Regions from separate parts of the Homo sapiens genome. Here region 2 is linked to region 1. The links come from fine-mapping of genetic effects on gene expression. A gene starts in region 1. The other region holds a variant in brackets. All regions are shown on one strand. Distances are from middle to middle.

Region 1 (16,473 bases):
GACACTCTATCATTTATTTATGCACAAGTTTGGCAGTTAATTATTATAACATTGAAGACAGATAAGGAAACTAAGGCTGAGAATGTTTAAATGATTTGCCAAACGTCCCATAACTAGGTATAAACACTTAAGAACTATTAGTAATCCAAAAGAGAATGAAAGGCATTTAGCAAATAATCGCATATGATTGTTGAGCTGAACTGCTGATGCTTTACTGCCTCAAGACAAAGTTTGCTTTCAAGAAAAGCCAACATCTCAAAGTCCTAATTCATCTCCCTAAACTTTTCTCCTATTACTTACCATCCTGTAAATCTTCCAGCCTATATAAAATTGATTCTTCTGAAAGAGATCAACATACTGGAGTTCCCAGTAGAATGTCGCCCTCACTGTTATTTTCAGTTATCAAAATCCTTTAGGATATAGCCCAAGTCTTACTCCCTGCATTAAAACTTCCCTTACAACTCTAGGTACAGGAACACTAATTGCTCACATACTATTCATTCAACACGTCATGGAAATCACTTTCTTTTTATATAGCAGTCTTTTTCTTCCAACTAAGTCATAAGCTTCAAAGGAGAAACCACAACTAGACTGTATGTCCTTCTTTGTATCCCCATCACCTAGCAGAGTGTCCTTCATACTCAAATTCCATGGAGATCAAGTGGAGGCACTTGGCTTTGCCCTGAAAGCTCTTTAAGTCAGAAAGGCTACTGAATTAGCTACCACTGGGCCACAGTTTTGTTCATTATTGTTAACGCAAATCAGAGCTGAATCACTCAAATCATTTTCTATATGCCTAAAGATAATTATAACATGTCAGGTCTATGTGCATGGGCTTTAATATGTTTTAAGACATGTTGAAACCAAAAATTTTCACCAACCTATAAAAAGCATACATGTGTTTAAATCTTTACAATTCTTGACATACTTAGGAAGGTAGGAATGTTTTGTTTTAAACAAAATCATCAATTAGAGCCAAATTATTTCACTAGTCTCATAAGTAGTCTCCCTGCCTCCAGTCTTCAAACTATACTGAATGAAGACTGATTTTCTCAAGCATGCCCTCACTGAAGATCCTTTAAAAGTAGTCCCATTATGTCACAAAAAATGTAAACTTTTTTTTTTTTTTTTTTGAGACAGCGTGTCGCTCTGTCACCCAGGCTGGAGTGCAGTGGTGCAATCTCAGCTCACTGCAAGCTCTGCCTCCCGGGTTCACGCCATTCTCCTGCCCCAGCTGGGACTACAGATGCCTGCCACTACGCCTGGCTAATTTTTTTGTGTTTTTAGTACAGATGGGGTCACCGTGTTAGCCAGGATGGTCTTGATCTCCTGACCTCGTGATCCACCTACGTCGGCCTCCCAAAGTGCTGGGATTACAGGCGTGAGCCACCGCACCCAGCCAAAATGTAAACTCTTTACCTTGTAACTTAAGGTCCTTTATGATCTTGCCCCTGCTTACCTCACCAGAATCACTGCTAACTACTCCCACACTCAAATTGTCAGAGCTTAAGTTAGATATCATAGGGAAGAGATGGGAGGGATTCATTTGGCAGAAGAATACTGAGTATATTACAAAAAGAGAAAGTATAAAGTAGGAAACCGCTAAGAAAATGCTTCAGTAATTCAGTCACAAGCTAACTGGTAAAGAGCAAGGGTAGTAACTGTGGGATAAATAATAATGTTACACTTTTAAAGAAAATAATGAAGGACTTTTAAGCAGAATGTATCTAGGATTAAAGAGAAGTCAAACAATGCCTTAAAAGTTTTCAAACTGGTAAGAAGCCGGTGTTAGGATGGTGTGTTTGGGACATCATCATAACCATCAGTAGTAATTATAGTCTTAGTGGAAGTAGTCGTAGTACTGTTTCTTTCATCATTACCATTACTATTGTCATCTATTAGATACCAGGTTCCACACTACCTGGTACCTATTAGATTCCACACTACCTGGTACCTATTAGCTAAGGCACTTTACATATGTGGTCTATAAGCTTCAAGAGCTCTAGAAAGAAACTGTTTATCCTCATTTTACAGAAGGAATGTGTTTCACAAGAAGTTACATATCTAGAAAGGATTATGGCTAGAATTCAAACCCACATTTTTAATCCCATATAACTACAGAAAATACAAAACTAGAATACAGCAGAGTATTGACAGCTAAAGAGACGAACAAGGGCGTGAATGTAAAGAGAGATAAACAAAAATGATTAAGTGGAAGGGGACAGAAAGATCAGGATCACATAAATTAGATGACATTTTCGTGTAAGAGTGGATGGTTGAGAAAAACATTAAACATCTACCTGTAACATAGTGCTTTCATCATTGTGCCATTAAGGTGAACCACAAAACTGGTCCAGAAGACACAGGAGTCAGAACTATAATAAAATGTCTTAAACTGTCCCTTGGAGTATTCAATTTAAATACATCTATTTCCCATAATCGAGTTTTCTTTTCTTCAACAATTTTAACATCCTTTCAAGTATGTTTGTGTCTCTGCAGCAGTAAACATTCTCTCAGTATAATTTATATATTTGACCTTATCATTTTTAACCCATGTTTGTATTAATTGCTTTATATTTTGTTACTCATACTCACCTAACTGTTGGAGTTCCATAACCCCTATTGAGCTGACTTTAAGAAAACCAAAATTAAAATGATAAGCTGAGTACAGAATGTGATTGACTTCAAAATTGTTTCCTACTGTGTACTAATTCCCTCTTTCTGAATTCTGATATCTCAATAGTAACCACTCCAATTGTATATGACCACAGCACCAGAAAATCACATTTTCAATTACTGGTGTCCAATGAGTGGCATAATTAGAATAACATTACCACACTTTCATGTATTACATACCTAGTATGTGCTTCACAGACTTAACACACATATACAATATCTCACTAAATCCTAATTATAAATCTATACAGAGGGTATTTATATCCCAATTTTATACATGAAAAAACTGAAGGTCAGAATAACCTACTTCCTCCAAGTAAAAGAGTAAGAGTGTGACTTGGACTATTTGCTATGTGAAGAATTTACTACAAAGAGGGTCTATCTTAGGCCTATTCAAATATTGAAGAACAAGTCTTTTATTTTAAAGCAGTGCTGGACACAAGCACCAAGAACAGGGTTAGAACTAGGTCTTATTGTAGTTAGGAAACAAAAAGTACACATTTTAAAGCTGTGTTTCTATTTCTAATAGAAATAGAATGCAAGCCATATAAGAAATTTTAAATTTTCCAGTAGCCACATTAAAAAGTAAAAACAGGTGAAATTAATTTAAATATATTTTATTTAATCTAATATAACCATATCATCTCAACATGCAAGCAATATAACAAATTATTGAGATAGTTGACCTTCATCTCAACTCAGAGTAGCCACATTTCAAGTACTCAACAAACACATGTGGCTAAGCACAGTGGTGCACACGCCTGTAATCCAGCTACTGAGGAGGCTGAAGAGGGAGGATCACTTGAGCCCAGGAGTAATAACCACATGTAGCTAGTGGTCACCATACTGGACAGTGCAGAAAAGAAGCAATTACCTATATGTAAAATATATTCTAAACTGTATTACCATCCCCATCTCAATTAAGTAGGTACATATTATCCATTTATAACCCTAAAGCATACTCATACAGCTATTGTATACAGCAGCACAGAAATGATCATTAATTACATAAATTTTTTTCAATTTTTTACCATACTTTAAAAAGATCTGTAAATAAACAATGGTAAAGAAGCTTCAAATTCAACATGTTTGTTCAGATCAAAGAAAACTATGTACATTGTAAACAATAGTGAGTTAAGTCACTGAGGAAAGAAAGATGTAGTATTTAGTTACGAAATACACTTAAAATGACAGAAAATAGCTTTCAATATTAATAAAATTATAAGACAAAGAATTATCCAAAGTATACCAATATGAACTGTTCTCACTATTCAGATATTACACAATTCTAATTAACTTTTTGGGAGATTATTTTTAAAACTATAAATACATTTTAAATTATCTTGAGTTACTCACATTTGGTCATCTATTCCACAAAACTGTTCATTTTTATGATAATAACATGCTATTGAAGCACCATGGAGAATTAGGGAAAATACCCTAGGTAATTTAGAATATAAAAATTATTTGTTAGGAAAGATACCAAAGATACCAGTAAGTTTATATTACAGAAATCACTAACTAGCCCATGTGAAAATAAGCAGGCTCACTATTCTTCTCTATTCTGTACTATATAACAGAGAATAGGAATATGTGGAATGTGAAAGGATAGGCAGAAAAATAGGACATGTAATGAATTTCCATGAAAATAAAAATCACAAACTTGACTTTAAAAATAATATAGCCTGTTTTCTTACAGCATGAATAAAAGAGTATTTAAAGATAGTTTTTCTATCATGTTTTTATAAAATATGGAATGGTCTGAAGCTTCCTCACAACATAGTCAAGCTTCAAGATATTTCAGCCTAGGCAACATAGTGAAATCCTATCTCTACAAAAAATAAAAAATTAGCCTGGTGTGGTGGCACACACCTGTTGTCCCAGCTGCTGAGGAGGCTGAGATAGGGGAGGATCTCTTAAGCCCAGGAAAGTCAAAACTGCAGTGAGCCATGATCACACCACTGCACTCCAGCCTGGGTGACAGAGCAAGATCCTGTCTCAAAACGAAGAAAAAAAGAAAAAAGGATATCCTTACTTACCTGCAGGGTTTACATTCAGTATCTGCTCATTTTCTACATCCATTTTCCCTTAATTTCGCTTGCACTGATTAAACAAATTACCTAATGGAAATCTTCCTTCAGAATCTGTTTTTTTAAAAGAAAAAAAGAAAGCTTCAAGATCTTTTAAACTGATGTAATTAAGCTGAATTAAACTTACTTAAGCACACTGTAAAAACAAACGACAACAACAAAAAACACACAATTCCATTAAATAAAACAGTTCACTTTACTTTCAAAGACAACTTACCCTAATTAACATTTGGTTCCAATCTTTTTGATAAATTTATCAAAGTCAAAAAAAAAAATCCCAGATTTCAGCATGTGCCAAAGCACCCCTTTAATTGGAATTAAAAGATATGTTTGTGATACATGTTTACGTCAAGTTAAAGAAATACACACATCCAAATCTTTTAGGAATACCAAGCCTCAAAATTAATCTGATATACATACATAGGAATATAAATACTGGATAGTTCCCTACCAATGAATTATGAGAACTACTCCAAAATAAAAACAACACAGTTTTAGTTAATAAAGAATATCACATGACTGTGTTATTTTTCACATTACGGCATATCTGAAAGGCAGATATATCTGCCACTCATTACCTAGGTCTCTATAATTACTAGAATAAGACTTTGGGAGAAACTTTTAAAATCAGCTTTTTTGATAATATTATTTATATGAGAAATCCTTTTTTGATAATATTATTTATATGAGAAATCCATTTTTTAAAAATCTGATCATTTCAGAAAGGAGTAAGTACAACGACATAAGCATTTCAGTATTTTAGGCCTCAGTTTCAAAATGGCTTAAAAATTATTAATACTGGAAGGTTTGATGAAATCAGTTACCTTTTAGACAATTAACTTAGTGATACAGATCCAATAATGTTATATGAAAGAAATATCAAAATAGTTTTCAAAAAATATATTACCAGAAAGTGCAACCAAATTAAGATTTCAGAATCTCTCTAGAAGTATTTTTTAAATAGTGGTTTAGAGTACTTAAGTGTATGTTTAAGTCACATAGGTTGGATATAAGTCCTTCTGGTCATTTACAATCAGGTTGCTAGCAGTGTGCTCTTCAGAGATATAAAATGCACAAATTAGTGAAAATGCCTAATAAATTAATTACAGAAAAGCACATTTTTTCCTATATAACTTAACCTACTGTTAGATGTCATTTTAGGATAACAATGATATATACAGAGCCTCCTGGGACTCAAAGGTGAAACTGACTTTTAAATTCCTCATTATGTACTACTATTTGCTAACATAAGTTTATAGCCCTTTTCTTCAGAAAACGGTATTATTTTGTGAAACAAAAACAAATGGACCTTATGTTAAAATTATAGGCTTCTTACTATGGTATAATCCTCAGACTAATATGCTATCATATTGCTTGGGAACTTAAGAAAATGGTGAGATCATTCTCTAATTCTGTTAAGAATAAATTAATATATGTGAATCTTTATAATCACTTTTCACTATAACTCCCGCCAACTTTAGATATGAAAAAAAAATCTTAAAAATATGTAGAGATTCATATAAATATATGAACAAAAATGGTTTGCAAATCTAAACACTCAGCATCCTTCATGGCTGAAAAGGCTACATTCTGTTTTAATTCCATGCATGAAATACATATAGGAAAGGAATAATGTCATATGATACGTGTTTCAGTTTTTTAGAGTTCCATTACAAAGTCTTTTTCATTCTTGATGAAAGTATAACTTTTGAGAGAATACTTTCTGCAGAACCTAATAAGCGAAATGATTATAATTGATGTTCATAAAGCCCTTTACAATTCAAAAAGAATTGTACATGTATTATTTAATGTACCTTACAGAAAAACCTTCGGGTAGGTATTCCACCTTACACACAACTAAACAGATTCAGAGAGGGTAGGTGATATGTCCAAGGACAGACAGCTGCTTAGTGGAACAGCCAGGATGAGAATCCAGACCTTCCAAATCCAGTACTGTTTGCACAAGTTCAATCCAAAATTTTAATATCCCACAGGAAGATTCTTTTCAAGGGTTAACAGAAGCTTCTTAAAACAGACTTCTGCTGTTCAAACTTTTAAATGCTGTTTTCCAAACACTAAAAATAATTATTTTAAACTATTATACAGAAGGCATTCCGTCAGACAAAACTGTCAGGAAATGACTATCATCTCTTTTATTAAGATAAAAACAAAGTTATCTTAATAAAAAAAATAGTCCTGTGTCTTTAGGCAATGATAACCCGATCAGGAACTCAAGTCATATTTGACAGCAACAAACACGTTTTAAGAGTTTAGATAAGACATGTTCCACGTTTTTACGCTCTTTAAAGTAGTAGGATTTTTTCCAATTTATTTAACAACCCTTAATTGGCCCAAACAAGAAAATATAAAGCAAAAAATCCAAACGCTATTTCCTTCATACTAACCTACAAAAATGAATTTTCGATGAGAAAACTATACATACAAGTTAGAAGAAAATGAAGGCTGACATTAAACACTGTTCTTTTCTCCAGTGTGTTACACGAAATATACAATCAGAAGTATTCAACTGCCAAGACATTCCCTAAGAGACAGACCCTCCACTCCCCCACGAAATATATACATATGTATTTCCTGAAATATACCTCATAAATTGCTCTGGCATTTTGGGGAGTCAAGCTTTGGCCATTTATTAACTAGGATTACTTGTATTCATTCTTCGGCTACGAACGGCTAATTAGCAGCTTAAAACCAGCTAAAAGCATTCTACTACAGTAATGCAAAAGCAAGCACTACAGATAATATTCAAGCGGCATTTATTTTTGCAGTCCTAATATTTTTTCCTTTCACATTAGTACCACAGAAAAAGCCAGTCAATTATAATTCAAATACACTTACTGAGATATTAACGTATTCAATAAGCCTATAATGAAGGAATATTAAGGGCATAAATACCAGTAACTCCTTGCTTAAAAAGCACTTGGTGGTTTCCCAAAAAAGTCACGTTAAGAATATCAAGATTGTAACAATTAAAGTAAAAATACAAGTTAAAAACAGGGGAAACCCTTTTTTCCCCGACACCTAATCGCATTTCTGATCGTTTTCATCATTTGTAGACACTACACAGTTGCTGGCTACGTAGCGAGTTCTCACAAGGGGGAGGGGGGCGAAATTGACGTCTGCAGACAGTTTTGAAGCTCTTGCAAAACCCCATGTACGTTACAGCATCAAACTGACAAATGGAGAAGATGGCATGCGTTTCACAGAAAGGGGGCTCCCTTCCCGGCTTTGTTTTCTCTGGGAGATTTTATTTTACCTAAACTAAAAAAAAGAGACCCTTTGCCGGAAGACGGGCGCGACGAAGTTCGCGCAGGGATGGGGCGGCGGGCACGTGTTCGCCTCCCAGCGCCCCCGGCGAGGATAGCGCGCGGCCCCTCCCCACAGCGGCCGGGCCTGTTCTCCCGCAGCGGGCTCAGGCTAGGACCCCCGAAGTCCCAGCCCGGGTCGGCCCCCGGAAGGGGCTGGGCCGGGGCCGAGGCCGGGGCTCCGGGTTCACGAAGGACAGGGGGCCGCATCTTCAGAGGATTCCCAGGGAGGGCAGGGGGCGGGGAGGGCGCGAATCTTCCTCACAGGATTTCAGTCCAGCCGGAAACACGCCTTCCAATCCCGGCCCCCGAATTCAACCTCCGCCAGAGGGGGAGGAGGGCTGAGGGGGACCTTCAAGGGCGAGCGCCTCGCGCGCCCCTCTCAGTGGGGAGATGGCTCCGGGAGGGGGCGGGCCCGCGCCGACACGCTCCAGGCTGGGCTCAGAAAGAGGGAACCAGGCCGGATGCCCGCAGTCCGGGGCGTTGGGGAGGGCGCGGCTGGACCTGCGGGGCTACAAGAAGGCAGCCGGACCCCCGCACCGCAGGCCCGGACCTGACAGGACCGCGACCCCCACGCCTCCGCCCCCGCCCCCTCCCATCTTGCGGCTGCCTCCGAGGAGGGATGGGGGAGAGGGCGCAGTCTTCCCGAGCGTGTGAGCCGCGCCTACTGGTACTGACCCCTCGGGCCCCCGCCGCTGCTCGCCCAGGTTCCTGGTCAGCCGGCCCCGACCCCGCTCTTCTGTCTCTGCCGCCGCCTCGGAGAGTCTCTGGCCCTTCTCGCTCTGTTTGTTTTTGTTTTCTTCTACCCAGTAACACGGGGGCGAGAGGGCGGCGCTTATTGGCCGAGGCCGGGTGGTCGGCTGGCCAATCGTGGCGGCGGAGCCGGAGCTGAGGAGGAAAAGGGAGAGGAGTGAAACGTGGAAAGTTGGGGAGGGGCGCGGGAGGGCGCATGCGCATGTGGCTCCTGGGACTGGCTGGAGCGGGAGTTGAGCGGGAAGTCGGGGTGGGGGTATGTTGGGAGGCGTGGCGGGATGGGAGCGTTGGGAAAAGGGCAGTGCTGGGGGATGGGGACGAGGATGAAGCTTCCTCGACCCAGCTCACCCATTCTCCTCACAGGGCGTTCTGCAAACTCGGCTGAAGCAAAGGTTTTGAGCTTCCTGATGGTCCCTGCCTCCATTTCTAGAAACTGCTTAGGCGAACACTCCAAGTGATCAGCCTGTCCGATTCCTCCTCCCTCTGGCCGCTGCTTTCTCTGTGGCTTCCAGTTTCTGGAGATCCCATGCTAAGAAGTTTCTCTCAGCGAATCCCCTCAAACCTTTGAGATGGAAATAATTCCCATTTCACAGATATAAAGCAGGCTCCAAAACTCTTTGAAGTTCCTTTGCTAATCATGACTAGCCAAGCCTCTGGCGTTCAAACGCACAAATTCCGGCCTCCAGTGCTGGGGTTCTCAGCCATGGCTACAATTTCTGTATTGAAACTTCCACCTCCCCTCGCTGTTCTCTGTGACTTTTCCTCTTGGCTGCATTGGTTTTGGCTGGTACTATCCTTACTCTTTCAAGGTCACGGTCCCCTGAGGGTGATAACCAGAACCTTAGGCTTCCTTTGTGTTCCCAGGCGGGGACTTAGCCACTGCCTCTGATCAGATTTTTCAGTTGTCTGATGGGCAGCACCGAATGATTGCTTGTGCTCTCCAGAACCCAACTGCCTCATCCCGCACAGGCCAGCGCTTTCCCTTGGCTGCCCAGTCACCCTGCCTGGGAATCATCTCTAATGCTACTATTTCTCTGCACACACACGCACACACACACACACAAACCTTCACTGGCTTCCCATTGCCTCTCTTGAGTGTCAGCGCCTCGGTCGGTCATTCAAGGCTCCGTGATGTGACTTCAAGACTTTCAGGCTGTGTCTCCACACATCTCCCCATATGCTTCCTCACCCCCTGGTAGTTCTTTATATATCACCTTGAAATGTCTCTCTTCTCATCTCCTATCTCCGCCTGATGCAATCCTTCTGTGCCTCATGGCCCTTCCTGGTAGTTTTTTATTTTGTTGTTGTTGTTGTTTTATTTAATTGAGGCAGGGGCTTGCCCTTTAGCCCAGGAGAATGCAGTGGCATGATCACAGCTCACTGCTGCCTCGACCTCCGTCAGCCTCCCTAGCTCAACGATCCTCTCACCTCAGCCTCCTGAGTAACTGGGACTACAGGCACAGCTCACTATGCCCAGCTAATTTTTGTATTTTCTGTACACACAGGGTTTCATCATGTTGTCCAGGCTGGTCTTGAACTCCTGGGCTCAAGCAATCAGCCCACCTCTGCCTCCCAAAGCGTTGAGATTACAAGCGTGAGCCACCATTCCTGGACCCTCGTAGTTTTTCTGGAGCCTCGTGATTTGATATGATCTTCCTGCCGCTGATTCCTCACAGTGTTGGCTTGCCACACCTCCAGGGGCACTGATCACATTCTACCTGGCATTATTTCATCTGAGTCCCTGTCCTAGCCCTTCTGCCCATTAGACTGTAACCTTGTTTAGGGAAAGACCTGTGTCTTACTCATCTGTGATTTTGTTGTTGTTGTTGTTTTGAGACAGGGTCTTGCCCTGTTGCCCAGGCTGGAGAGCAGTGGTGCAATCTTGGCTCACTGCAGCCTCAACCTGTTGGGGTCAAGCCATCCTCCCACCTCAGCTTTCCAAGTAGCTGAGACTACAGGCCTGTGCCACCACACCCAGCTAGTTTTTTGTATTTTTAGTAGAGATGGGGTTTTGCCATGTTGCCCAGGCTTCTCTTGAACTCCTGAGCTCAAGGGATCTGCCTGCCTCGGCCTCCCAAAGTGCTGGGATTACAGGCGTGAGCCACTGTGCCTGACCCACTCACCTGTCATTGTAGTACTTAAGATGCCTTGTTCATTTATTGTGCCTGTGCAATAAATACACCTTGATTTGAGTTTACAAAGATTCTCAGCAGTTGGTGGTCATCCTCATCTCCTGGGCGGGGGCCTCCTGGTGTGGCCAGTATCTGAATTAGTCTCATAACTCATGTTCACTTTTTAAAATCGGAGCTTCCCAGACCTCAGTTTTGTTTTGTTATTTTCCATTATCTGCAGCTGTCTCCTTTCCCCTCTCTCACCTATACTCTACTGATCAGTGACTGCTGGCTCCTTTGTTACCCATCCTTCTCTTTCTCCACATTTTTTCTCTTCTCATCCCTTTCAGTTCTGGACTGTTTCCTTCTTCCTCCCTGTCTTTCATTTAGTCATTCATTGAATGTACTTACTAAGCACATATAGCATAATCAGGCTGTGTTGGGTAGGCATCCCGAGTTCTATGAGATAAAGAAAGAATGGGATATGATTACCAATTTTAAGAAGCATCTAAAACAACCTGTTATGTTTTAGCAAATTGCCCCCAAAGGACCCATTAGGGAGGAAAACGTTCATGTCCTTTTTGCGTATCATCTCAAGCAGTACCCATGATGGCTGGGATCCCAGAACCCACCTTTGAGAATGCTGCCGTATTTGCGTGTGGTTGACAAGGTTGGGCCAGACACTCAGGAAATAGGGTTGTCGTCCTACCTCCCCCACTAACTTCCTGTAAGAACTTCAGCCCCTCTCAGGACCTTTTTCTTTACCAATAAAATTCAGAAATTGGGCTCAATCAGTAATTCCCAAGTTATTTTCCAAAGAACATGAATTTTGTGGAACTTTAATAGATATCATGCAAAAAAAAATGTGGGAGGGATTGTTCCATGGTCAAATGGTCTTGGAAATAACTCGTTTAAACAAAAATAAAACTGTTTCTTTACCCACAACTCTTCTCAGTGGTTTTTTGTTTGTTTGTTTGTTTTTTGAGATGAAGTTTTGCTCTTGTCGCCCAGTTTGGAGTGTAATGGCACTATTTTGACTCACTGCAACCTGTGCCTCCTGGATTCAAGTGATTCTCCTGCCTCAGCCTCCCCAGTAACTGGGATTATAGGCGCCTGCCACCACGCCTGGCTAATATTTATATTTGTAGTAGAGTTGAGGTTTCACCATGTTGGCCAGGCTGGTCTCGAACCCCTGATCTCAAGTGATCTGCCCTCCTCGGCCTCCCAAAGTGCTGGGGTTACAGGCATGAGCCACCGTGCCCAGCCTTCTCAGTGTTTTTAATAAGCTATGTGCCTTTAGTGTCTTGGGAGACCAAGGTAGGAAGATTAGTAATGTTTCCTACCTTGTTTAAACACAGAACCTTTTTTTCTCAAGATACCCCAGAAGCAGTGTTATTTAGAAACCAACTTGGGAAATATAGATGACAGCCACTGTCACCAACATTCCTTCCAGCTGTGTTGAACACTTAGTCACCTGTGCCTTTGCAGCTGAACATTTAACAAAAAAAATTTTTTTAAGAATAAGCTGAAAATGGAGAAGTATCCAAGTGCCAAGAATTTTTGCCTACCAAATCAATCCACAAATATTTTAGTGTGTGCCTGTTCTATGAAAAGCACAGTTGATTCAGCTGTGTTCTTGGTAAAAGGCATTATACTACTTTAGGGTAGGTAATATCTGAAGCCTAGGGCTGCCCGGGCTTCTGGGCCACAATGTATGTTTTCATTTCACGTTGTAATTGTCACAAACTAGGTTTCTGTTACCTGAATCCCTGTGCCTATGGGCTTATGTTAATTTAGCTATTAGATGACAGAAAAGGAGAGAGGCCTTCCCCTTAACTCACTCTATACAGAATAATGGAATTGCAACTTCCATTTCCCTTAAGAAAGATTCATTCCAAGAGCTTAGGAGAGGAAGGGAGATCACAGTTGCCCAGAACAAGACAGCTGCTCAGAGGTGGCAACAGAAACTCTGTGCTTTGTGAGTAGATAAACGTTACATACTTCATCTTCCCCGTACTCCTCAGGCTTAAGCAGTATTGAGATACTTGGAGGGGCGCAAAGAGTGTTTGGTTTTGTCAGGGGAGAGGGTGGGAGATAGTTCCTATTTTTCGCCTCTTAAGACAAGGTAGTGACCCTGTCCCTAACTAGCTGTGTTGCTTTGGGTGTTTCACTTCCTCTCCCTGAGTGAATTGAATGCTTCAATTTTCTGTGCTGTAAAAGAAGGAGGTGCCCATTGCAGGGAGTCCATAAGCAGCCATTCAGTTCTAACACCCTGGGATGCTGAGCAAGGTACTGAGTTGGTACCATGGGAGTCCTGGGAATGGAGAACAAGAGATAAGAAAGTTTGCTGGCCGGGTGTGGTAGCTCATGCCTGTAATCCCAGCACTTTAGGAGGCCAAGGTGGGCGGATCACTTGAGGCCAGGAGTTTGAGACCAGCCTGACCAACATGGTGAAACCCCATCTCTACTAAAAATACAAAAAAATTAGCTGGGCGTGGTGGTGCATGCCTGTAGTCCCAGCTATTCAGGAGACTGAGGCAGGAGAATCTCTTGAACCTAGGAGGCGAAGGTTGCAGTGAGCTGAGATCCCGCCACTGCACTCCAGCCTGGGTGACAGAGACAGACTCCACCTCAAAACAAACAAACAAAGGAGTTTGCCACTGTTGGCAGGAGAGGATTCCACCGGGTATGGACAGAGGGACTGTCAACCCAGGGGCTTTCTCCTAATGCAAAGCTCAGATAATATCACCTCCCTCCATCCCAAAGGCAAAGTGATGGCTGGTGTGGGTTTAGGAGCACTAATTAATTAATTTGGGTAAAGTACTTGAAAAAGCACAGTTGAAGGCAAAAGATAAGCACCTAGATTTACTATTAATGCCTTTGGAACTCTCCAAGGCCTTTTCATTCTTAGGGTAAAGCCTCATTTGAGAGTTCTGTTTCTTAATAAGAAATGGTCATGCCCCTAAATGAAATTGAGGAGAATTTGTCTTTCTGGGGGCTAAGGGTAGGTCTTAGCCCACTTCCTTCCTAAGAAATTTTAGATGCTGCTGTCATTTGCAGCAACTTCATCTACCTGAACTGACGCCTTGTCTCCTTTTGTCAAACCAAAGCCTGAATTTTGAGAATTTCTCTAAGGCAAAAATTGCACTTTAGCACAAATGGTAAAAGATATAAAACATGTTCTGAAGAAAGAGCTGCATAAAGAATTCTTATAATAATGATGATAGCTGACATTTGTGTTGGCCTAAGATTTACTGAGCACATGTGCATAGACTTTCACCACCTCCCTATGAAGTGGACAAGATTCTGTGCTTTAAACATGAGGGAAATAATGAACCTTGAGCAGGTCACTGGTAATCATGGAACTTTTATACTGAAAGGAAATTTGGGGATTCCCTAGTCCAAACCTTTTATTTTACAAATGGAGAAACAGATTCAGAGAAGTTAAGTGGGTCACCTAAAGCCACACAGCTAAGTTAGTAGCTGAGCCAGAAGTACATATGAGATCTCTGCCCAGAGTTGTAGGGAATGTGCAGACCAGGAATCCAGACCTTCTGGCACCCAGGCTGGGCTGGACTTTCCCTCACATGCCTCTTGATTGACAGTTAAATTTCTGGGTCCTAGAGGCTCCTGGTATCAGATGAATCCATCTCAGGGGCCTGAAAGTGGGGAAGAGGGAAAGGGTAGTAAGCATTGTACAACGTTTAGAAACCCTTCAAGGGGCATTTCTTGCATGTCTTTCCTGGGGTAAAAAGCAAGCACAGAGTAATGTGAAGCATAGTTCAAAAAATAGATGCAATATTTTACTGTGGTATGTACCAAGAAAAATTGAAAGACTACTAAGATTTTATTTCCTCAATTCAGGTTTCGAAAGGTTTTCTTAGTACATTTGTCTTTTATGGGGTTTCCCCCCCTCAAATCACTCCTACCACCTTAGAGATTTAGAAAAAAAGCTCAATTAACATTGAGGAACTCCAGCAAGAAATCTTTCCCGCACCATATCCCCCGCCAAAACACAAATTTTACCACATCTCCTATACTTGGCCTAAGTTCTAAGCCTTTGCAAACTCCAGTTCATTAGACTTTTGCAAACACAGACCATTCCACCCGATGCTTTTCAGCATTTATTATAACTGCCACGCCCTGCATTTAATAGTGTTGAGTCAGGGTAGAGAAGTGCTCCTCCAGTTGTATCTCTCGGGGCTTTATTCGCATTCTTCTGGAACACTGGATCCTGGGCTAGGCTTCACATGTCTCAGAATTAATCCTCTTTTCTCCAGCTGCCCTGAGTGCACATAGCTGCCATTATGCCCCCCTCCCCTCTATGTCTGCAGTGTCGGCTTGCTTCCCAGACAAGGAGGTAGGGCCCAGAAAGCCTGGTATAGAAATGAGGAACTTTTCATTCTGGAAAATAAATGAAATGAATGATCTTGGGTTGTGATTAAGACAGCCAAATCTATAAGGAAGTACAAACAGAGAAGGCTAGAGAAGGGCAGGGGTAAGGCAGGGCTGAGGAAGGGGGATGGCTGAAGAGACAAATGCTGGGTAGAAGTTAATTAATGGAACTAATCGAACCTCTATTTATTTTGAGCAAAAATAAATAAATAAAAGTAGTGGCAAGAGAAGAACAAGGGAAACCCAAGAAAGATGTTGCTTTTTGTTATTAAATGTTTATAATAAAAATGAAGCTAGCCCCGTAGAAGTTCAGAGAAAAGAATAAAGTCCCAGGAGATGACCTGGTGAGGACAACTTGCTCAGATAACAAATGAGCAAACCAAGGCCCAGACAGAAGTGGTGCGGCTCCTGGCAAGACACAGACAGAGCCATAGGACCTCATTCCACGGCCAACAGCTGCCTTCCTTTTCCATATGGTTCTCTGCATGTGTCTTGTCCTTCTGCCCTGTTTTTTTTTTCTTTCCAAAAAGCTAGGAGGACAGCATTCAGAAAGAGAAACTAGGACTGGCATTTGTAAACAACAGCTCCAGGAAGTCCCCAAGTACCGCAGTTGAAGTAACATGATTGACAGTCATTCAGCGCAATTGACAAAGCCAACATCAAAACAGGAACTAGCAAGCAACAGGCCACCCTCCAAGAACCAAGAGTTCAAAAGAAAGAAAAAAAATAACTGCTCAGGGGACAACTGAGAGTCTTACTATCGTTTCTTGTGTTACATAGGTCTATGATATGTTTTGTTTTCAGAGAGCTCTCTTTGAGGACAGTAAATCTAGCCCAGTGATTTACTGGTTGGCTTCAGAGGGTGCAAGAACACCCTAAAATTTTATGCAAGTTTTATTATGAATATGCATTTGATGCCACAATGGGTCAATAACTTTTTCCCATAAGGCCCCCAAAAGAATCATGTCCCAGAAAAGATCAAGAACATCTGGAATATGTTTCTACATTTATGTTATTACATGTTATTACATTTGGGCCCATTTTCAGACTGGGTGTTTGTATGGTAAATGCATCTGATAGCAATAACTAAAGCATACCCTGAGAATGAACTTGTATGACAAATGC
Region 2 (16,473 bases), 89 kb after region 1:
GAGAGAGGTCTCTCAAACTGCCTCCTAGAGCTGCAAAGTGTAGATTCCATCTTCAGTAAACGATTTCTGTGCTCCAGCCTGATCTGTCTCAGATGTGATCTAATGTTATCTGGCACAGAGTCTGTGGGCCTCTGCTGGTTTTGTTCTAAACATGCCTAAGAGCAGATATGGCAAATATTTATCTCTCATGATGTTGATTTATAACCTGTTATGCAGAGAGCAAGATGTTGATTTTGAACCTATCATGCAGATAGCAAATGGTTGCAAATTCCGTAGCTATGGATCTTGGCTTAACTTGGAGGGTAGACACAGTTGCCTTTATTGATGCTTTCAAATATTTTATAGAGCATATTAGCTCTGACTCAGAGTGAATTTACTTTTACTGGTAAATCCATAGGATTGCCTACGGATCTTGGACGATTCACCTGTTTAGCAGCTTCAACATCCCTGGAAACTGTAGAGTCACAAAACGTTAAAATTGGGAGGTCATCTGGTCCACGCTGTATATGAGGACACTGAAGCCTCAGAGAAGTTAAGGATCTTAATCTGTGGCCAATTAAACAGTGGCAGATTTGTGATTAAAACTCAGGTGTCACTGAAAAAAAACCTATCAATCGCAGACTTGATAAATTAAGGTAAATACAAAAATGAAGTTACACAATAAGATAGGAACTATTTACGTTCTGATGTGGAAAGATGTCTAGAAATCGATTTAAATATATATTGAAAGCTTATGTTAAGTGAAAAAAACAAATTGTGTAACAGATTGTATGACGTTATCTGGTTTGTGCCCAAAAAATTACTTTTACTAATGAAACATGTACACATACACTAGCTAGAGAGATATATACTTATAACAAAAGCATTTAACTTCTGTTTTCTCTGCAAAGTTGACTTTTCTTTTATATTTCTGTTACTGCTAAGATTGTTTACACAATGTTCACACTGCTTTTCCAACAAGAAAAAGTAAGATTTGTAAAAAGAACAAATTCCAAAACAAAACCTACCCAGGTCTCCTGTCTCCTCCTCTTTGCTCTCTTTGAAAAAGCACAAGGTGGCCCTTGCTGGAGGGACAGGAGCAATGACAGAGCTGGAATGGTGGGGAGGCGGCTGGTAGTATATGCCACATCAATTACTAGTCCTCATGCTCAAAGAAGTCAGGAGACCAGAGCGCTCTAAGCCATGCATTCAGAGGGCCAGGGCAGACAGATGGTGTTCCAGAAACAGCCAGTAATCAGAGTTGCAGCCTGTGACTTACACCTCTGGCCTTCCACAGACATTTCTATTTTCCTGAGCCTCCATTTCCTTATTTATACAAGTTCCCCAATGTGCAGGGTCTTGGCGAGAAATAAATAATAAAAACGATGTGTATCATCCCAGGTCAGGGTGGCCCATCTGTGACACTGGCACTAAATAAACTCCAAGATGGTTGTGAAAACTGCAAGGTGGCTTTACAGGGACAGACACAGAGAAAGTGCACCTCGGGCAGGTACACAAAAACTACTAACAGGCTGAGAAAGCCCCAAGGCCCCTTCCAGAAACCTGATTACTCTGTTTATGACGACTCAGTCAGCCAAGGAGAAAGTGCCTGGCCTCAAATGGCAGGAGCTTAAGTGAAAGTGAACACCTATCTCTGGGGACCCTAGAGTGGGATGGGAGGGGCTGAGGACAGACACAAATCACCCTACCAACAGCAAACACAGCATACAACTGTCAGTGCAGTGTCCCGTCTCTGTCAAATATAAACACGCGAGCCTGGGCAACATGGCGACACCCTGTCTCTCCAAAAATTAGCTGAGTCTGGTGGCACATGCCTGTAGTCCCAGTTACTTGGAGGCTAAGGTAGGAGGATCGCTTGAGCCCAGGAGGTGGAGATTACAGTAAGCCATGATCATGCCACTGCACTCCAGCCTGGGTGACACAGCGAGACCCTGTCTCGATAAATAAATAAATAAATAACAATAAAAAGGAAAAGAAAAGAAAATGAGAAAAAAAAAACCTAAACAAAAATAAATAAACAAACAAGGCAACGAAACACTCAGACTCCAACACAGGTGGGAGAAGTTTAAATGCAGCCAAGTCTGTCCCCAGAAGGGCTTGGTGGCAGTGGCAGATGGTCTTTGCGGTCCTTTTAGATTTTGTGGCAGTTCGGATATAATCTGAAGGCTCATTTCCAGAGCTCCGTGTCACTTTGGTCTTCTCTTGCTTAAAAACAGGGAGCTTTAGAGGCAGTAACTGCTCTTCGCTCCACAGACATTAGTGATATGATCAGACAGTGGCAGGATCCTGGCTGTTCCTGGTTTTACTCAAAAAAAAGTGTTTCTGAAAAGATGCATGTAAATGGAATCAGACATACAAAGTGCTGGCGCAGGACCAGACCTCACTTGTGGAGGAAAATGGGATCTCTGTGAGGGCTGAAAGGGAGACAACCGGGGAATTTCATTCCCCTCAGTATTTCTTTTCTGTTTGCATTTTCACAATAAGCATAAGTTTTGTAAGCAGAAAAACATTAGAAATGTATATGCAAAAACAACTCACTGGGCATTCATTGGAAACTGGAAAAATATCCTTTGGCAACAGAGTAATCACCCCTTATCTTTGGGGTGATATCTTTGGAGGTCAGTGTTTGTAGGCAGAAAGAAAGTCAATAGTTTCTCTGAGGGACTCTTCTGCTACTTAAAGGAGACTTGCAAAGTATTTTTCAAGAGTGGATTAATCATTTCTCCATTTCTCAGCTTGTCTTCAAATGTCAATGTTCTCGCATTTCAGGTTTTCCTCAAGACAGATACACCTGCATTCAATTCCATATGCTGGCAATGGCAAACCGGGGGACCAGCGTCTGACAGAAGGATGTGAATGAACATCAAGCCACTGACAATGTAGGGGTTGGCTGGGGCAGGCTTTGTCCTTGTCCCTCAGATAGGCTTGAGGAGGCTCATGTGACCAGCAAGATGTCACAGAGGTTATAATGATAAAACCAGACAAATGCTGACTCTCCCCTTCCACTGGGTCTGTAGAAAAGGCCTCCAAACATCTGAGTTCATCTTGGCAGATGCTGTCAGGGTGCAGAAGAATGTGGATACCAGGTGTGGCTGGCCTCTTCATCTTGCTCCATGGGTGGCCAAGGCCAGAGAAGTCCCTGTCACCTGCAACGCAGCCTCAGAACCTCCCAAGCGGCTTGTGGGGTAGGGAGAGGGGGAGGTGAGAGGGGCTTACTAAAGAGGAGGATCACAGCAAGGAAGAGACCCCTCAGATCCTCGCAGAGAGGCTGCAGGGCTTAGTGGTTACAAATGAGGCTTCCAGAGCTAGGCTGCCTAGGTTCAAATCCCACCACCTCCATTTACCAGCTATGTGGCCTCATATAAGGTACTAAGCTTCTCTAGGCCTCAGTTTCCCAACTGTACAATAAGGATAATAATAGTATCCACCTCATGGGGTTGTCTAGAGGACTAAATGAGCTAATACAAAACAAAAATGCTAAGAACATATTGAGTACTATATAAATGTTGGCTGTTGTTTTTATTATCATCCTACAATGACTGGGGCTCTCTGTCCCCTCCTAGCTCCCAAAATGTTAGCTCTCTGTCCCCTCCTAGCTCCTCGCAGAGAGCTGTCCCCTAGGTCTCTGTCCCCTCCTAGCTCCTAGCAAAATGTTTCCTGCGTTGCTTCTCACCAGGCTCAAGCCAGATAAACTCCCCATCTCTAGGTGTTCGGAGGAAGTGGCACTCAGAGCTTCGAGGAATTAATTAGAATCAACACACAAATCATCAGATAGCTTGTGCTTGCCCACTGGTACGTAATTTAAAAGTACATCCATGGGAACCTCAAAACATCTCTAAGGTGGAGCAAGTGTGACCCTGGGTATTACTAGACAGATTTGTGTAAGGGGAACACTGATACCAAGACTCGGACAAAATCCTATGGCCAGCAGACAGAGCCAGCCTTAGACAGCATGGGTTTCCCCCCGACTCTTCACAGCCAAAATGGGTTAAAAGCGCTCGTTACTCAAGAACAGCCATGGTTACTTCATATGTACTTGACGGTTCCCAAATCATTGTCCCTGATATTATCTCATCTGATCCTCACAAGGGCAGGACAATACTGGATCTATCCCAAGCCTTGCTCCCACTGTCTGGCGCTGGCCACTGAACCAGAAGCCTGGGCTGCAGAGCTGCATGGGATGTTCTGAGATTCGAGGAATAATCAAAACAATAAATTACACAAGCTGGATGGAAATCCAGTTGTTTACTTTATCTTCCAAAGGCATTATTGTTCCCACTTAAGGAAACAGAGCCTCAGAGAAGTAAAGTGACTTGCCTGGAGACACACAGCAAGTGGCTCCCAAAGTAGGACTTGAACTTAGGTCCCTAGAGCCAAGTCCATAGGAAAGGGTCTCTGGCTCAATGGGCAGCGCTGGAGGGTGGGGAAGAGGCCTGGGACAGACTGCAGAATGTCCTGCCTGTGTCTCTCCTCTCCCCATCCACCCCCCTTTATGGAGGGGCTCAGTTAATGCCATCTCTTCCCCGTACCCAGACCCCAGGTTGGAGTCAATTTACAAGCCCTGCCCCCTGCCCACCTGACACTCAATCCAGCCTCCCCCATCGTGGTCACAGTTCCTCCCCTTCAGTGCCTGGAGTGGGGTCTCAGGGCAGGGTTGTGAGCACAGAGGTGCCTCCATGGCCCACACCCCCATCAGGACACAAGGTCATGTTACCAGGAATCTGACCTCAGAGGACAGGCCTCACTGAATCTAGCCATTGCAGTCTCCTGGGACTGACCCGAAGCTGCCATTGACCTGGGCATGGCTCTGAGCGAGCAGAGTGCAGAGAGGGAAACCACAAAATTCTCTTTCACCAAAATGTGGGCTTCCAGACAGGGGCTCTCTCGAAGCGCTTCTCCTATTCAACATCACAGATCAACACACACAAATAAACAGAAGCCTGGGCTCAGGCAGGCCTCACGTCTCATCATGAACCACCTCGCTTTTCCGCTTACTCACTCCTCAGAGCCTGAGAGCTGCACTTCACAGCTTACTGGCCTGATGCTTTGCAATGCCAACACGTAGAGGGGACAGCACGTGGAGACATGCTCTTGTGAGCTTGTGTTCACTCGCAGGAGAAGAGAGAAAGAGGCTGCAGCAACTCACACCACAAAAGCACAGGCACAGGCTAAGGCACACAAACAGGTGCCCTCCAGCAGGGTTCAGACAAATGCATTTGTTTTACAGTCAGTTTTCCTCCCACTCCCCTTTCTCCTGCCCAGAGGAGAAGAAGAGGTCAGATGGGGGTGTAGGGTGGTGGCACAAAACAACTGAAACCCCAGAGAGAAGAGGAGCTGTCACCGTTGGTGAAAAAGGAGAGATGAAGCTTAGGAGCTTTGGAGGACGAAAATGTATGTTGCAGAGACAGCAAAACTAAAAACAAACAAAAACATCATACAGCACAAACCAGTTCCTCAAGGGGCCAACAAATGCTACTGGTGCGTAGTCCTTACTTTCACACACTTTCTGGTTCAAGCTTCAAAATTACCCTCTCATAGGAAATAATCTACTTCCATAAAACATTAAATAGTCTTAAAAAAACATAAAAAGCTCCAACTTTTTTTTTTCTAAGCCAGCGCTGAATGCTAGAAAGTCCAGGAATGCCTTGAATTTTAAGGATTTATGTCTGCTTCTTAAGTCATGTGTTTCAATACTAGATGAACTGGATTAAACAGCTCTTCACTTCTGTCTGGGGTTGTTTTTCTGAATGACACAAAGCCAGGTCAGCACCTCTAGGCCCAGATATAGCAGGTGATACTACAAACGCTTGACAACAACAATGACAATGGAGAAAATGGTTTTTTTGTTTGTTTGTTTTGAGACAGAGTCCCGGTCTGTCACCTGCGCTGGAGTGCAGTGGTGCGATCTCGGCTCACTGCAACCTTTGCCTCCCGGGTTCAAGTGATTCTCTTGCCTCAGCCTCCCAAGTAGCTGCGACTACAGGCATACACCATTCATGAACCAATCTATGGCCAGAAAGTGTGATGATCTCCTTGGCTGCCTGAGTCACATGCTCACCTCACTTCTGGTCATGTCATCTTGGAAACTAGAGAAGTGTAATTCCCAGAGTGGAAAATTGAAGGGTACCAGGTATAAATGGGTCTAGACCTCAAAAGCCAGCCAACTCTCCACTAAAAAAAGTGTTAACATCCTCCCAGCCTGTGGCATGTCAGGTGCATACTGAGCATGAAGAACACAGTGCTGGGGAAAGCAACAAGCATTTCAGGGTGACTGGCACACAGAGAGGTATTTGAGGCAGGGCATGGTGGCTCACACCTGTAATCCTAGCACTTTGGCCACCTGTAATTCCAGCACTTTGGTTGACCGAGGCAGGAAGATCACTTGGGACCAGGAGTTAGTTCAAGGCTGCAGTGAGATATGATTGCACCATTGCATTCCAGCCTGGCTGTCTCAAATAAACAAACAAATAAATAAACTAATAATCATTTTCATTAATTTCTAGAGAAAATGTTTCCGTACTCACAGTTGTCCCCACAGAAGCCAAAGGAAATGTGGGGCTTGACTGAGTGAATGACCTTGCTGGAATGGGCACGTATGATGTTCCAAGATTTGAGGCATAATCTAAATGATGAATTACACAAAGTCAGTGAAAACCCAGAATGTAACATCAAAAGTCATTATTAGGACATAAGCAGGCATAGAAAACTGAACCTTTCCCCTTCACATATTATTAGTGATTGGCATGATTGTACCTCTGGACATGCTGATAATCAGCAAAGCTTTACGTCTCAAGTATCTCAGAGAATACTGATGGGCCCAGACAGCAGGCCCAATGCATTTTAGTGTCTTGGGATCTGTTTGCTTTCTACATCCGTGAGAAGGGGACATCAGGGAAGTCCTGGTTATTAAAGACAGGACATAATGTGCCTGTGGGTAGCCCACTTCTGCTTCAAGCTGCTGACCTGTAGGGCCTTGCTCACCTTCATTCCCAGCAGGGTTATAAACAGCTGTGCTGTTGGGAGAAGCACACAATGTTCCCTCTGCCGAACCAAGTATACACCGGATGCCAGCACTGGAGAGGGCGAGAAAGGGAAACCGGCTCCTTAA[T/G]AAGTTAAACAAAGAATTAGCATGTGACCCAGAAATTCCACTCGTAGGTGCAGACCCCCAAATAGTTGAAAACAGGTGTTCAAACAAAAACTGTCCCCAAACCTTCCTAGCAGCCCTATTCACAATAGTCAAAAGGTGGAAACAATCCAAATGTCCATCAAAAGATGAATGGATAAACAAGAATGTGATATATACATGCAATAGAATATTGTTCAGTCATAGAAAGGTTGTACATATTACAACATGGATGGATGTACCTTGAAAATGTTATGCTAAGTAAAAAAGAAAAAGCCAGTCACCAAAGGCCACATATCATATGATTCCATTTACAGAAAAGTACAGAACAGGCAAATCCGTAGAGACAGAAGGCAGATTGGTGGTTGCCAGGGGCTGGCTTAGGGGGAATAGGGAGTGATTACTTAATGAGTATGAGGTTTCCTTTTGGAGTAATGAAAATATTCCGGAACTAGAGAGTGGTAACATTTGCACAATGTCGTGAATGTGCTAAATGCCACTGAATTGTATACTTCAAAGTATTTTCAAAGTATTTAAAATAGTAAGCCCTATGTGAACTTGACTACAATGAAAAAAATGAAAGCCAGAAAAGGGAGGCACACGCCCACGCACACACGCACTTCCGGCCTCTGCCTGGTGTTTTCTGCCTAGCATTTACCACCAGGGATGCTGTAATTTTCTTGTTCATTTTGTTTATCATCTCCCTGGCCCCTGTGAAGCACAAGCTCCTTGAGGGCAGGAACTTTGCCTGTTCTGGTCTCTGCTATTGCCCCAGGACTCAAAACAGCGTGTGACACACAGTAAATGCTCAGTGAATATGTGTTGAGCCTACGCATGAGCCTGTCCTCCTGAACAGCACTTACTTTTCAGAGAAGACCAGGCATTTCTGAGCGTGCAGCTTCCCTTTCACATGCAGCTCCCAGTCCTAGGTCAGAAGGAAAGAAAAGTGACCAAAGTAGAACTGAGTCCATGGGAAGGCAAAGGATGAGCACAGAGACACTGGTCAGGCAGGGAGCACAGAGCGCCCAGAGGCTGGACCACCCCTGCAGACACATCCCTCCACCCTTCCTCTCTCCCTCCCAGGCTCCTCCCACTGTTCCTGCCTCCCCATCCAGCCTTTGCTCCATCAGCTCCTCATCCATACATCTCATGCCCATCTTGAACAGGAGCCCAGACTCACAAATTGGATTCCCTCTACCCCTCTCAATGGACCCTTGCCCCCACCACCTACCTCCCACCTCCCACCCCTTCTCCTTTCCCCCAGGAAGACCCCACCTATTTCATATCCAGTTGGGAGAATCTGGCAGGTAGACTCACAGTGACTTACAAAGCCTTAGAAAAGGTTCATGAGAGACAAAATCCTTGAGCACCTCCCCGTGTCAGCTAGTCCCCTCCCAAGACTAGAGGTCAGAGGGCATGTCCTATCTGGGTCACAGGGATGCACTTGGATGGTGTGACCCAAACAGAGGTGAATGACATGCTGCAGTGTGACTCACACTCTGCAAGGACATTATTATGCTTTTGGACAGGATGAGAGATGGGAGGCAGGACAGCCCAGTGTTTAAATGGTGCAGGCTCTGAAAGGGTCAGGGCCACATTTGAATCTCCACTCTGCCACTTTCAAGCTGGGGAGGTGGCGGGGAGAAGGGGCTGAGTAAGTCATCTCATCTCTCTGGGCCTCAGTTTTCTCATCTGTAAAATGAAAATCATAATAATATCTACCTCATAAGAGTTACTGCTGGCACACAGAAAGGGTTTAATATATGGTATTTGTTATAATTGTTATTGCTTCAAAATATTTCACTGCATCTGCAATACATTTTTTGGGGGGACATTATACTATCATATACCTCTGTTTGCAGGAACTCAAAGCATTTCCCAACCACCGGGAAGGTGTCATGAGACTCTACCTCCATTTTGCTGATGGGGAAGCTGAGGCTCTCTATAATAATTTGTCTAGGTCCCAAGGGGGAATTAATCTGTTTCCCCTGATCCAAAATTCTGCTTTTTTTCTTTTCTAACTCACTACAATATGGGTACTCAAGGGGCAGTAGATTCTAGGCATACTACGGGGGAGAAGCCCTCCACGAGAAGGCAGGAAACTCCTGAGCCCCTTCTCTCTGCAACCCAGGTGGGGTCCTTTGCTCCCCTACTCAGCCTCAGCTTTCTCATCTAGAAAAAGTGTGTAAGAATTTCTGACTCACCTTCAAGCAAGGGACTGGTCCTGATACATTTCTGAAATTCCTATGGGTCCTAATACCTGTGATTTTAGTCAAGAATACTGATGGCAAAATTCTGTTACCCCAATGCAACAGTTCCTTGCCCATTGGCAGCGTGAGTTGGGTCATGGGGAAAGGCCTGCCCAGGCTTCTAGCTGTGGCTCCCAGCCTGTCTTGGACAACTCACCTTCAAATCAAACACCTTCTTGTCACAGATGCTACAGATATGCGGCAAGTGGAGGGGGGCCACACCGTGAAAGTCGTTCAGCTCATGAGCCTGCAGGGGCCGCACAGATAGCAACGCCTGGTCCTCCTTGGCCCTCCGCCCAGCACCGATAAAACCCTGTTTGCTGTTGTTAAGCCGACCCCCGAAGGAAGGAGGTGTCCTGTCTGAGGTTGGTTCCTCGGGGTCGTACAGCTCATAGGGCTGGTTGTGGGGTGGAGGCCACATGGGACCTGCTGTGAGATCAGGCTTGCTTTGGCCCGAGAATCCATGGGGGCTCTCCCATTGGCTGTTTGTGCCCTGCAGCAGTGGCCCGACCTCACTTTTCAGGCCCCCAGCCTGCTCAGCTGGAAATCCGCTGGCCACATGTGAACCTTGGGAGTTGGGTCCGTAAAAATCTTTGGAAAAGGCAGCTTGACCATCCTGCCCTGTGTGGCTGTAGTGCCCTTCATAGGTCACACTGCCCGAGGTTGAGGCCGAGGATGGCAGGAAGCCAGGCTGACCATCTGTTTCAGGGCCATATGTCTGGCCAGAGCTGGCTTTGCCATACTCATAGAATCCTGCTGTAGCTGGAGCAGGCCCAGTCTTGCCAATGCCCAAGATGACTGCTGGCTGGCCAGGGGTCTGAGGCATTACCCCAGTGAAAGGATGCATCACCATGGCACTGGGTGGCTGGTTGGGAAGGTTCATGGAGGGTCCGGGGCCTCGTGTCTGGCTGGGGGGTGAAAAGGCAATTGCATTAGAGGGAAACCGGGTACTGGGTATGGCTGCAGCATGTTGGGGAACCCCAGCATGGCCGTGGGGGCCAGTGATCACAGACGGATGCCTCAGTTGATTGAAGAGAGGCTGGGACATGGCCACTTTGGAGAGGACTTGGTTCAGGACTGTGGCGGCTGCAGTGTTGTTGGTGACAGCTGTCTGTGCCAGCTTCAGCCGGTGGAGGGTGAGCTGGGCCTGCAGTTGAGCCAGCTGGAGACTGGCAGGTGAAGGAAGCAGAGGGTTCGGGTTACTGACCGAGAATGGGTTCTTGTCCAGGAGCTTGGCGGCACTGTGGGAAGACAGAGGTCTAGATGCACAGCTGGTTTTCAATGAGGGGGGCAAGGGGCTGTTCTTTGTTATCTGTGGTCCCCCCTCCCACATAAACAAGACCTTCCCACACTGGTCCCACATACAAGTGAATCTGCAAAAACCTGTGCTCACACATACACATTAAAAAAAAAAAAAAAAACTCCAATGGAAAAATTATATGACAGAACGTTCAATCTCACTAGTAAGTAGAAACATAAACTAAAACCATTCAAAACAAATATTTGCCTAGCAAAATAGCAATTTTTTAAAATGGCACTCCGTGTTGGAGAGAGAGTAGAATAGGCACAATGTCAATGATAATCAACGCATACAGCTTTGTTAAAAGATAGTCTAACAAAATGCATTTATTATAGCCATATTCTTTGACCCTGGAATTCAATTATATAAATCAAAACTGAGAAAATGAGCTCAAATGCAGACAAAATTTGATACCCAAAGATGCTTAATACTATACTATTTAAGAGTCCAAAGTTGAAAATTACAAATATCCAACAATAGCGAGATGGGATTTGAACTGAGGAAATTATGATACACCAACATAATAAAATATTAAGTAACCATTACTATTGGTGTTCAAATTTCTACTTTATTATGTAACATTTAGGACATTCAAAAAAGAGTACACAGCACCAAGCTTAAGACAGAGAGCATTCCAATACGATAAATCTCCCTTGGTTACGTGCTCCCCCCACCTCACCCTTCCCCGTGATTGCCAATGGTAAACATTATCTTGAATTTGCCAAAGTCTCTGTTACAAAAAAACAAAAACAAAACCACTTTAATGACATGAGAAAATCTATATGCTCTAATGTTAAGTGAAAAAGGCAGGCTTAACAATTGCCTACAGAGTGAATCGTGTTTACATTTGTGCCAAACACATTTTCATCCTTGTCCTCATTTCACATCCAAAAGTAACATGAATTGTCTTCCTGTCTGAATATAGGCACAAACAAATTCAGCGTCTCCTATACTCTCACAACACGAACCACTTCTGACACTAGATGTGTGGGAGGTTTTCTCCACACACCAAGCAAGCAACCAGTTCTGCAGTGGACACCAGCTGGGTGTCTGCCAATTCAGTTCTGACACTACCTGGGGAAAGCGTCAGATCCCACAGGTTGATGGCTCAGCCCCACAAGACTGTCCCCCCACTTTGGATGTCAATCACAAGCCCCAGGTTGTTTTACTCATGCTTCTGACCAACTGGCTGTAAATCAGAATTAGACTAATTTGCTAGAGAGGCTCCCAGAACTGAGGGAGATGCTTAGTTTTACTGGTTTATTAGAAAGGATATATGACAAAGGATGCCAATGAACACCAGATGGAAGAGGTGCATGGGGCAAAGTGTTTGGGAAGGGGTACAGAGCTCCCACATCCTCTCGGGCACCCCCCTCTCCAGGAACCTCCACATGTCCCAGTCCTTTCTGGGTTTTTACGGAGGTTTCATTGCACAGGCATGTTTGATTAAATCATTGGCCATTGGTGATCAACTCTACTTTCAGCCCCATTCTCCTTCCCTGAGGTTAGGGGTGAGGCTGAAAGTCCCAACCCTTCCATCCTGCTGTGGTCTTTCCAGTAACCAGACCCCATCCTAAAGATACCTAAGGGGCTGCCAGACATTTGTCAGCTTATTAGCATACAAAAAGATATTTATCCGATTCCAAAGACTTTTGGAGTTTTATGCTAGGAAACCTGAGGAAGACCAAATCTCACAATATCACAGTTCCCTTCAACTGAGCTCTCAAACCTAACTAGTATAAGGAATAACCAAAAAATTACAAGTAAAAAAATCTGAATTTGAGGTAGGGGACAATAGCAGACTCTCACCGAATCTTACTGCAGAAAGGGTGTCCGTCTGACATGTGTCTTTCATGTGACCTATATTGGTTGGTTATAGTGGTTTCTGGACCAAAAATCAGTGTGCATGGTCTGGAAACTGGAAAGACTTTCCCAGAACATCTGGGATATGTGGTTACCACAGGCAGGGAGGGAATCTTTGGTTAAGACCACATTTTCCAGGTTTTAAATTCCCCTCTGAAAAGTGGGTGTCATCAGGAAATATGTTCAGGATGTTGATGAACTGGAATTCTGGGACATTTGAATGGGAAGAAGGGGACTGGAAAACTGGAAATTGGAGTTGCCATAAACAATGCATGCTGTACAATAAGCATGCTTAGGCAGTACAGGGTAGACACTGCACAACTGGGACACCTTAGTCTCCACTGTCACAGGTTCTGTACAGTAAAAATCCAATGATAATGGAACAAAAACGAGAGAGGCTGGGAGCTAGCTCAGCTGAGGAGGAAAAGGGAGACATAGCAAGTGACATGGGTTGCCACACTGTCTTGTTGGAAGGGAGTTCCCAGAACATCAGGCACACCCACATTTAAATGTAAGTACAAAGCACATTTGAGAGCCAGATAAAATGCCTTTGTTATTCTTTCCCATTTGCATGAAAAATCAAAAATTGCCTATAAGTTGTTAAAAAGACACCACCTTCCCCAGCCAGCAGCCCTGCTATGCTCCAAGGGCAGAACAGGCTGGCTGCATTTTAAAATATGGGGGAAGAGGGCACTGAAAGTTAAAGGTAGTTACAGCCCTGTTCTCCTTTGGGGAGCCGGGCTGGTTGCAAACAAGCCTTGGGGGTCCCTGGGTGACCCAGCACAAATTCAACAGCAGCAGAATGGGGAGCGACCAATGTCTATGTAGGCAAGAATACGGAAGGAAGAGGAGAATGGATGGTCAAGAGTCTGATGATAGATTTTGACTTGTGTAGTATTAAGTAGCTGAGCTTTAGAAAAGCAATTAAGCTTAACTCAAAACCGTGGCCACACAGGGCCAACTCTTCCTCCCAGGTTTGTCCATCATACAGCCTGTTCTTGCTAACAAGGCGATAATGAGGTGCCAAGTTGGTTTCCATGACCAGAGTAAGACAAGGTTGGTTTTGTTTTTCCCAGAGAAGTCAGCTCTATTTTCTAAAATTGCATTCTGGGCAGGAGGGAGCTCTTAGTAGAGATTCCCCTTTGCCACTGAAAGGACACGTGAGGAAGGGCTTTCCAACTAGGAAAGCCAGCCATGCTGGGTATTTGCAGGTCAGCCATGGGAAACCTGTCCTTTTCAGAGTATGGCCCAGGTTACAGACGTTAACCCATTCAGATTCCTCAAAAAATAAGAAAACTAACCAGGTTTTCTTCTTAATTTTTGCTTTGACTAGGAAATTTTCATCATTCCCAACTTTAGTCAACCTTGAGTAGAAGTGATTTCACATGAATCATCAGAGCTGAGCACCTGCTTTCATCCAAACACCCTAGACAAAGAAGAAAAAACACATCATACTATTTTTAAAGCCCTAAAATTCTTAGCCTGCAATAGTTAATAACCTGAAATTGAGGTGCATATAGTAGTGATCATATTTCTGAACCAAAAATTGGGGTGCATGATCTGACACCCCTGGAAGCTGGAACTGATGTCTCCTGCTGTCTTCCCACTCCTTAGTTTGTCACTTTTATATCACTCAGCACATCCTGTGCCTTGGGTTAAAAATAATTGCGTGCGTGCCTTTCTACTCCACCAGACATAAGTTCCACAAGAGAAAGGAGTGTGTCTTGGAGAATCTTGTATTTCCTCAGCACACTGCCTCCCACTTTATGGGCACAAAGTAATTGCCGTGAACAAAATGAAGAAGGAAGATAAGGGGTATGGCTCATCAGAATCTGGTGGCTTTGAGGCAATATGGACACCTCTTTTATGAGTACCCAATTCTGTGGAGAAAAACCCACAAACAGCTCAAAAAGGACAATCTAAATACACCCAAGAAGCAAATAAAACTAAACCTACAAGCAGGTACAAAGTCACCTTCCTAGGTCACTATCTACAATTTCCCACTCCAATGCAGGAGCTTCAGTACACTCTTTCTCTGTCTAAGTTCAGGTTTTTAAATTGAGTGGATAATCCCTGCAGTAGGCTGAATAATAAAAATGTTCACATTCTAACCCACAGAGGCTGTGAATATGTTATCTTACATGGTAAAGGGGACTTTGCAGACATGATTGAATTAAAGATCTTGATTATCTGAATTTCTGAATTTAATTTGGTATGCCCAATGTAATCACAAGAGTCCTTCTAAGACGGAAGCAGGAGGATCAGAGTCAGCGAGAAGATATAAGGATGGAAACAGAAGTCAGAGAGGAGAGAAGATGCTTTGCTGCTGGCTTTGAAGATGGAGGAAGGGGCCATGAGCCAAAGAAATGCAGGAAGCCTCTTAGAAACTAGAAAAGACCAGGAAACAGATTGTCCCTTAGAGCCTCCAGAAGGAACTAACACCTTGACCGTAGTCCAGTGAGGCTGGTTTTGGACTTATGGCCTCCAGAACTGTAAGATAATACATGTATGTTATTATAAGCCATTAAATTTGTGGCAATTTGTTACAGCAGCAATAGAAAACCAACACAATTCCCAAGACAATTAGATGCAAAAGTGGCTTCCACTAGAGAGGCGGTGGTAGGTGTAGGGGCTGACTGGACCTTGCTGGTATGAATTGATCCCCCCAGAGTACAGACCATCTGACCAAACATCCAAAGACCCTCTGGGAATGTAGTCAGGGGCCAATTCTGCACAAATAGGGGCCCAAGCAACGTGTCTCAGACCTGGCCAGTCCAAGAACCACATCCCTCTGGCAACAGTGATTGGCTCATGGGGGAACACTCTCGGATACTTTGTTAGAGCTATCAGGCATGATTCTCTGTCATGCCATGGTTGCTAAATTGTTGTTAAGCCATCACTTAATGACAGCCTGCTTGAGAATAAAGCCAACTCAGAAGATGCTGGCCTGAAGACAGAGGTACAGGCAGCTCCTTGATGACTTCCTAGGAATGCCTTGAGCCAGCTTCTCCTGAATCCACCCTGTACTTTGCTGGACATGAAGCAATGCATTTCCTTTATTTGCTTAAAGAAAGCCAACCTACGTAAACCACGGGCATTTAACCATCTTTTAAAGACGGTTCCTGTCTGTGGCCCACATTGACTTGAAGGTTCCTGGTCACCCTCCAGTTTCCTCTGCAGGAGTGGACTGACTGTGAGGACCCAGTAGTTGGAGCTACAGGGTCACTATCATCATCATAGGGAGAAAAGAGGATTAGAAGATAAGGAGTGGGCAACTGCTGAGAGAGGAGGCAGCAGGCATGGGGATGGGATTTGAGGGATCCAAGAGAGTCTTAACATCTGGTTGGTGAACCAGGACTTAAAGGGCTGTGGAATAACAAGGACACAGCTGAAGTGCAGTAGAGTGAATGTGCGTAGATGTATCAGCAGGCTCTCTCCTGGTAATGTCCAGCCATCCAGAAGCAGGAGCCAAGAACCACAGCCCAGAGCATGGTAGTGCCTAAACTCATGCACCGGCCACATCTGCAATAAGCACAATATCTTCCAAGATAACCAGTTCAGGAATTTAAATTCACTTCCAGTGCAACTGGCTGAGTGGTGAATGCGCCATTTCTTCTTTTGTGCTAAAATATAGAAAGTAATCGAGGTGAGAGGGCTGATGACCAGGCAAGAAAATATTTTCTAGGTATGACCACACTATAAAGGTGTGGCCAAATAAATGCAACGCTGAAGGTCAGATCTTTAGAGCAGAGTTGAGAATTTATGATCTTTCCATGTCTTTATGACACATTCTGCTAGTGTCAACACAGGAGAGACTTAAAGCAAAGAGAGGATTAATGTCAACTTAACTAACAAGAACTACATTATAGTTTTCCTTCCTTCTGAACCATTTTTCTTTAAAACATTCCTTATTTATGGTATTTTGGTGGGAATTTCTT

Which allele goes with the higher level. Alleles are on the strand shown, and positions count from the first base shown. SD is a standard deviation of normalised expression in the study named.
In carriers of allele G in region 2, the expression in subcutaneous fat of the gene that starts at base 8,858 in region 1 tends to be lower than with T alone (small effect, 0.20 SD a copy in GTEx).

The links.
Region 2: its variant is fine-mapped to the expression of PDCD4 in subcutaneous fat (GTEx, PIP above 0.99).

Annotation. Positions count from the first base shown.
Region 1 is chr10:110,864,313-110,880,785 of GRCh38, reverse strand. It overlaps PDCD4 (programmed cell death 4), which reads right to left and starts at 8,858. Exons shown (of 12, transcript NM_014456.5): 1 at 8,768-8,858; 2 at 4,716-4,820. The coding sequence starts at 4,758. PDCD4-AS1 (PDCD4 antisense RNA 1) reads left to right here and starts at 9,882. Exons shown (of 1, transcript NR_026932.1): 1 at 9,882-11,896. It overlaps LOC124902500 (a long non-coding RNA gene), which reads right to left. Exons shown (of 2, transcript XR_007062288.1): 2 at 14,338-14,612. RefSeq lists silencers at 8,106-8,305, 8,516-8,665, 8,696-8,745, 12,998-13,067 and enhancers at 9,750-10,360, 13,188-13,237, 15,639-16,018.
Region 2 is chr10:110,774,941-110,791,413 of GRCh38, reverse strand. RBM20 (RNA binding motif protein 20) reads right to left here. Exons shown (of 14, transcript NM_001134363.3): 2 at 9,530-10,613; 3 at 7,987-8,048; 4 at 6,982-7,073; 5 at 6,525-6,622. Among named protein-coding and RNA genes, the nearest start is that of PDCD4-AS1, 88 kb to the left of the region's middle. RefSeq lists an enhancer at 15,732-16,473. The variant T/G (reference allele first, on the strand shown) is at 7,109.